Homo sapiens: one gene and its partner. The protein of the gene in region 1 purifies or fractionates together with the protein of each later gene. This does not show direct contact. Each region holds a gene or a part of one and is shown in the gene's direction. Other genes may lie near its edges.

Region 1 (3,817 bases):
CAGGAGTTCAAGACCAGCCTGGGCAACAAAGTGAGACCCTCTTTCTACAAAAAATTCTCTGGGTATAGGGCACAAGCCTGTAGTCCCAGCTACTCGGGAGGGTGAGCTGGGAGAATCGCTTGAGCCCCAGGAGGTCAAGGCTGCAGTGAGCCATGACTGTGCCACTGCACTCTAGCCTGGGCAACAGAGCGACACCTTGTCTCAAGAAAAAAAAACAAGAGGACTGACAATAGGGTGCAGTACTTCCTAGAGCTGTGAGAGGATTGAGTTACCAATGTAATTCGTATGTAAACTATTTGGCACATGGTCAGCGCTCAATAAATGGAAGCTACTATTATGAGGCTGTTATACTCCATAAGTCCTTATTTCTAAGTACTATTTAGAATTGCCTAACTACCTTCACAAGGAGCACCTCACTGGTTCCATAACACTCTCTGGGAGGGTGCAGGAATTCTCATTACCATCTCACAGATGAGGAAACTCAGGGTCAGAGTCACACCATAAGGAGCTATTTGAGCTAGAAGTCAAATCTAAACCTTCGGATCCCAGAGTCCACTTTCTCTTCTCCCAGGCTAGTCTCAGATACCTTTTCCAGTGCTAAGGTCTGACTCCAAAACAGGACGTAAAGGAGGCGTTTTGGCAACGAGAAGAAAGAGAGTTGGGGGGTGTTGGTGGGGGCTGGGGACCAGCAGCAAAGCTCAGAGCAGGCAATGGGAGTGTAACCAGCACATTGCAGCTCTGTACAGTTTTCTTGGCAGCCTCAGTCCCAGAACTTCTTACCTCCTTACCAAGCCCCACCTACAAGAAACTAGCATGTGGCATTAAGGTTAGACAATGGAAAGGACTTTTCACAGTAAGGAAAATGAGGAGGTTGAGACATCTCTTTCCCAAATGAGCCCCAAGGAAATGAATATCATCTGATGATGTCACTCCCCAGCTCAAAACTTTTCAGAGCCTCCCTGTTGCCCTCAGGGTTGAGCTGGCAGTCCTGAGCCCAGCCTGCAAGGCCCTACGGGATCTGGCCAGCCTGCCTCCCCCGCCCCATCTCCTCCACCCACCCCAGGTGCTCTGTTACTCAGGTGCTCAATAGGGTCTTGTGAGCTTCCCTGCTGGCCAGACTTTTGCACAAATGGTCCCCTCTACTTTGTTTATTTATTTGTTTATTTGTTTAGTTAGAGACAGAGTCTTGCTCTGTCATCCAGGCTGCAGTGCATTGGCTCGATCTCGGCTCACTGCAACCTCTGCCTCCCAGCTTCAAGCAATCCTCCTGCCCCAGTCTCCTGAGTAGCTGGAATTACAGGCACGTGCCATCATGCCAGCTAATTTTTATATTTTTAGTAGAGATGGGGTTTCACCATGTTCACCAGGCTGGTCTCGAACTCCTGACCTCAAGGGATCAGCCCACCTCAGACTCCCAAAGTGCTGGGATTACAGGTGTGAGCCATCACGCCCAGCTCATCCCCTCTAACTTAAATCTTCCTCTCTGCCTCCTCATCCCTACTCAACTTGCGCAGCTACCTCTTGCTTTTCCTTCTTATCTCCCTTTGCGTGTCCCTTCCTCCAGGAAGACCTCCCTAACCTCCCCACTGAACTAGAAAAGTGCACTGTCCCTTCCCTCCTCTCTCGTGACACTGCTTACAGTTGTTCACCCACTTACTTGTCTGTTTCACCAACCGGCCCAAGTGCAGGTGCTCAGACATCAGGCAGCCGAGGGCCCAGTCCTTCTCTACACTTGTTGGCAGTGTGACCCTTGGGCAAGTTACCTACCTCTCTGTGCCTCAGTTCTCTCCCTGTAAAATGGGATAATAATACCTACCTTATACAGTTGTTATAAGGATTTTTAAAGCCTTTATCTAAAAATACCAGAGCTTATGTGGATAATAATTACTCAGCAAACGTTAGGTAGTATTTACTTAATAAACACACCTGGGATGTAGTAGATGTTCAATAAACATCTACTGAAGTTATTTTATTTAATGATCACTTACATAATGCTTATTATGTGCCAGGCACTGTTCTAAGCACATTACAATGATTAACTTGTTTTATAGACGAGGGAACTGAGGCACAGAGAAGTCAATTAACTTGCCCAAGGTTATACAGCTAGTAGGTGGTGGAGCCAGGCTGCAAACTCAGGTGGTCTGGCTCCAGCATCCATGCTTTTAAATGAATGAATAACTTAGCCTTTGTACGGAGGGTGGGAGGCAGGGGCTTCACCTACAGAAATTACTCCGTTCCCACTCTTGGACTCTTTCAGATCCTGGGAGCTCCTGGTTAGCAAGTGAGATCTCTGGGATGTCAGTGAGGCTGGTTGAAGACCAGAGGTAAACTGCAGAGGTCACCACCCCCACCATGTCCCAGGTGATGTCCAGCCCACTGCTGGCAGGAGGCCATGCTGTCAGCTTGGCGCCTTGTGATGAGCCCAGGAGGACCCTGCACCCAGCACCCAGCCCCAGCCTGCCACCCCAGTGTTCTTACTACACCACGGAAGGCTGGGGAGCCCAGGCCCTGATGGCCCCCGTGCCCTGCATGGGGCCCCCTGGCCGACTCCAGCAAGCCCCACAGGTGGAGGCCAAAGCCACCTGCTTCCTGCCGTCCCCTGGTGAGAAGGCCTTGGGGACCCCAGAGGACCTTGACTCCTACATTGACTTCTCACTGGAGAGCCTCAATCAGATGATCCTGGAACTGGACCCCACCTTCCAGCTGCTTCCCCCAGGGACTGGGGGCTCCCAGGCTGAGCTGGCCCAGAGCACCATGTCAATGAGAAAGAAGGAGGAATCTGAAGCCTTGGGTAAGGATTTGGGGCACAGTACCAGGAGGGGGGCTTGGTGCCAGACCTCATGAGGAAGAAGGATTTTCCTATGTACAGAGAAGGGGACCCTGTCCTGTTGGGAGGTGCTGTGCAAACCTAACCAAGTTACTAACCCCTCTGTTTTCTGTGCTACACAAAGGGGATAAATACAAGCTTCCCTCACTAGCCAATTCTATTTGGTTCCTGAGTTTGGAAAGTGATAGATACTGATTTTCTATGATTTTATGAGGACTTAAATAAGCTCCTATGGAAAGTGTTTTGTGCAGTGCCGTGCCCATAAAGAAGAGCTCAATAAATGTGGATCCCTGACCCCCACTGTCCTAGGGTGTCTCACTTCAGAGCCTAACCTGGGCCCCCCTGAAATTTTGGTAGGATTGCTATTGGGACCTCTGTCCTTGTTTAGGGGAGTATCTTTCTGGAGAGGCCCACGCTGGAAATGGTAGGATTGGGGCATCTGTTTAGGATAAGGACCCGGTAGTGTTCAAGCAGTGGTATGCTGGTGAATGTTTACCTGGCTCTCTGGTTGGGGAGCAGGGGCAGAGGGAGCTGATTTGAAGCTTCTGCCCATTTCCACAGTATGAATTCTCCCACTGTGGCCAATTTCAAACTACCAACATGATGTCACTGAATGAGGAGCTGGAGACATGTGGAGTAGCAGGCTGTCACACAGCATTGCCACCACACCAACACAATAGATGTAAATAACCCTGAGAGCACAGATAATAGTATGGAGGGTGGGGAGACACTGTCGTAAAATAATTGGGACGTGACGAATTTTAAGTATTTATTACCTTTGTTTTTAATGTAAGTTATTTCATTGTAAGTGTACATAATGTAATTATTCATAATGGCTGGGTTTAGTAACTAGCTAGACAAAATCCTGAAAATTTAACAATCAGCTCTTAACCAGCTGATACAAGCCAATTCCAGGGCACCACCGAGTCCAAAGGAACCTGGAAATTCCTACATCTGGCTTCAGTTTCCTGAACAAAGAGTTTCAAGTAT
Region 2 (3,337 bases), on another chromosome or scaffold:
AAATTGAGCTCAGGTCCAAATGCCAAATATTGCTGATATTCATCCACTTTTTGACCCACAAAAGTGGTCATTTTAACCTACAATAAAACATCCTGGCTCAGTGGCTCATACCTGTAATCCCAGCACTTTGGGAGGCCCAGTTGGGGGGATTACTTAAGTCCAGGAGTCTGAGACCAGCCTGGGCCATATAGCAAGATTCTGTCTCTACAAAAAATTAAAAAATTAGCCATGCTTGTGGGCAAGCCCCTGTAGTCCCAGCCACTTGGGAGGCTGAGGTGGGAGGATCACTTGATCCCAGGAGGTGGAGGCTGCAGTGAACTATGACTGCACTGAACTCCAGCCTGGGCGACAGAGCGGGACCCTGACTCAAAAACAAAACAGTGGCCAGGTGCGGTGGCTCACGCCTGTAATCCCAGCACTTTGGGAGGCTGAGATGGGTGGATCACGAGGTCATGAGTTAGAGACCATCCTGGCCACCATGGTGAAACGTCGTCTCTATTAAAAATACAAAAATTAGCTGGGCATGGTGGCACGCACCTGTAGTCCCAGCTACTCGGGAGACTGAGGTGGGAGAATCACTTGATCCCAGGAGGTAGAGGCTGCAGTGAGCTATCATTGCACCACTGCACTCCAGCCTGGGCGACAGGTTGAGACCCTGTCTCAAAAACAAAACAAAGCAAAAACAACCCCAAAGTCTGGTTTCCTTATTAACCCCAAGTTCATGGTCCACCCGAAGCTTTTCAAATGTCAGTCCCGGCTCCCCGCGCCCCAGCTGCAGTGCTGGGCCCTATCGTCACCCTCGCCCTCCCGGCTCCCTGCGCCCCAGTGCCAGGTGCTGGGCCCAGTCCTCACCCTTGTCCTCCCGGCTGCCCAGCAGGCGGTGCGGGCGGCCAGACAGGCGGCTGACTTCACTCTGAAGGTGGAAGTGGAATGCAGCAGCCTGCAGGAGGCCGTGCAGGCAGCTGAGGCTGGTGCCGACCTTGTCCTGCTGGACAACTTCAAGCCAGAGGTAAGGTGGGCTCTGCCTCCGGGGAGGGATCTGTGGTGGGCTCTTACCTCCCCTTGGCTTGTGTCCCGCAGGAGCTGCACCCCACGGCCACCGTGCTGAAGGCCCAGTTCCCGAGTGTGGCTGTGGAAGCCAGTGGGGGCATCACCCTGGACAACCTCCCCCAGTTCTGCGGGCCGCACATAGACGTCATCTCCATGGGGATGCTGACCCAGGCGGCCCCAGCCCTTGATTTCTCCCTCAAGCTGTTTGCCAAAGAGGTGGCTCCAGTGCCCAAAATCCACTAGTCCTAAACCGGAAGAGGATGACACCGGCCATGGGTTAACGTGGCTCCTCAGGACCCTCTGGGTCACACATCTTTAGGGTCAGTGGCCAATGGGGCACATTTGGCACTAGCTTGAGCCCAACTCTGGCTCTGCCACCTGCTGCTCCTGTGACCTGTCAGGGCTGACTTCACCTCTGCTCATCTCAGTTTCCTAATCTGTAAAATGGGTCTAATAAAGGATCAACCACATGGGGTTCTGCGGTGATAATGAGCACATAGTGAGGGGTCAGCAAATGTCAGAAGTTACCTGGGACAGCCGGGCACGATGGCTCACACCTGTAATCCCAGCACTTTGGGAGGCTGAGGCGGGAAGATCACTTGAGTTCAGGAGTTTGAGACCAGCCTGGCCAACATGGTGAAACCCCATCTCTACCAAAAATAGAAGAATTAGCTGGGTGTGGTGGCACGCGCCTGTAATCCCAGCTACTTAGGAGGCTGAGGCAGGAGAATCGCTTGAACCCAGGAAGTGGAGGTTGCAGTGAGCTGATGGTGCCACTGCACTCCAGCCTGGGTGATAGAGCGAGACTCTGTCTCCAAAGAAGAAACAAAGGAAAGAAAGAGAGAAAGAGAGAGGGAGGGAGGGAGGGAGGGAAAGGAAGGATGGAAAGAAAGGAAGAAAGGCAGGCAAAAGCCCCAGACAGGCCAAAACCTTCATCCTTCATGCACCCAACCTGTACCAAACACCAGCATGGCCTGGCTGTGAGTGCACAGCAGATGGAGGTTTGCTGGGCAGAGACACTGGGCTGGCCTAGACACTGCCTTTGGTGATACCCTAAACCAAAGGGGCCAGTCCCACAGTAAGAAGGAGACCACTACTACTCCTGCTGCCCTCCTCCCCCCACCTTGCCTAGTTTACAAGACAGGAGGAAAGAGAGAAAGCAAAAAGTTAGAAAACAAAACAAAACAGAAGTAAGATAAATAGCCAGAAGACCTTGGCGACACCACCCGGCCCTGGTAGTTAAAAAAAAGTAACAATAATAATAATATCAACCCCTGACCTAAACTACTTGTGTTATCTGTAAATTCCAGACATTGTATGAAAAAGCATTGCAAAACTTTCTGCTCTGTTAGCTGATGCGTGTAGCCCCCAGTCACGTTCCCCGCTTGCTTGAGATATCATGACCCTTTCACGTGGACCCCTTAGAGTTGTAAGCCTTTAAAAAGGCCAAGAATTTCTTTTTCAGGGATCTCAGCTATTAAGATGCAAGTCTGCCAATGCTCCTGGCCAAATAAACCTCTTCCTTCTTTAATCCGGTGCCTGAGGAGTTTTGTCTGTGGCTCGTCCTGCTACAAGAGGACACAGCCCAGAGGTGCCACCTGCAGCTGCCCTGTCCCCTCTAATCCCAGCTCCACCCTGCCTGCTCCCGTCCTTCCTCCAGGGGGAACATGGACACGCTCAGATGAACCCCAGCTTCTTATGCCTGAACTGGGGAAACTGAAGCCCCATGGGACCAGGGGTTCCACTGGGCATCAAGGGAGGAAAGTTGAGCCCCGGGGTGATCTGGGAACTGGGATCTGGGATCTGGGCAGGCATTGGGGCCTGACAGAGCAGAAGTGAGGAGAGGGTACCAGGAGCTGCAAACTCGGTGCCTCCAGGACCTATTCGGATAAAATAAATGGGTGGAACTGGAATAAGACAAAGTGGGGGTGCGCTGTGGCCAACTGGAAAATGCTCGTTGCAGCCACAGCGTTCCATTAAAAAAGCGAAAGGAACCTGCCTGCCTGAGTCTTAAGCTCCCCCTAAACCCAGAAATGGGTTAGCCCTCCAGTATCCTCCAGCTCTGAGAGCTGGGGCGGGCACTCCATTACTGGGGGAACAGGAAATGGATCCTGGGCACTCTAGGGCAACACACGCCCTCCTTGCAGGGAAATGGATTTCCAGGCAGGGGAGATGCATGGGCAGAGGTGGCTTGGATTGTTTGCTGTAAGATTTGAAGCTGTGATCAGGAGGTGGCTAGGAGATGGGCTGGGTCCAGACCACAAAATGGTAGATCGGAGGATTTGGA

What was found.
Region 2: the proteins of TNS4 (region 1) and QPRT purify together in Homo sapiens (affinity purification with mass spectrometry; one large-scale study listed by BioGRID and IntAct). This does not show direct contact.

The regions. Positions count from the first base shown.
Region 1 is NC_000017.11:40,494,961-40,498,777, reverse strand, and holds part of TNS4 (tensin-4 precursor), read left to right. Parts: intron 1-2,257; 5' UTR 2,258-2,352; coding exon 2,353-2,791; intron 2,792-3,817. UniProt on the Homo sapiens protein: Promotes EGF-induced cell migration by displacing tensin TNS3 from the cytoplasmic tail of integrin ITGB1 which results in dissociation of TNS3 from focal adhesions, disassembly of actin stress fibers and initiation of cell migration.
Region 2 is NC_000016.10:29,696,119-29,699,455, forward strand, and holds the end of QPRT (nicotinate-nucleotide pyrophosphorylase [carboxylating]), read left to right. Parts: intron 1-874; coding exon of another isoform or gene 875-877; coding exon 878-1,009; intron 1,010-1,080; coding exon 1,081-1,293; 3' UTR 1,294-2,581; downstream 2,582-3,337. UniProt on the Homo sapiens protein: Involved in the catabolism of quinolinic acid (QA).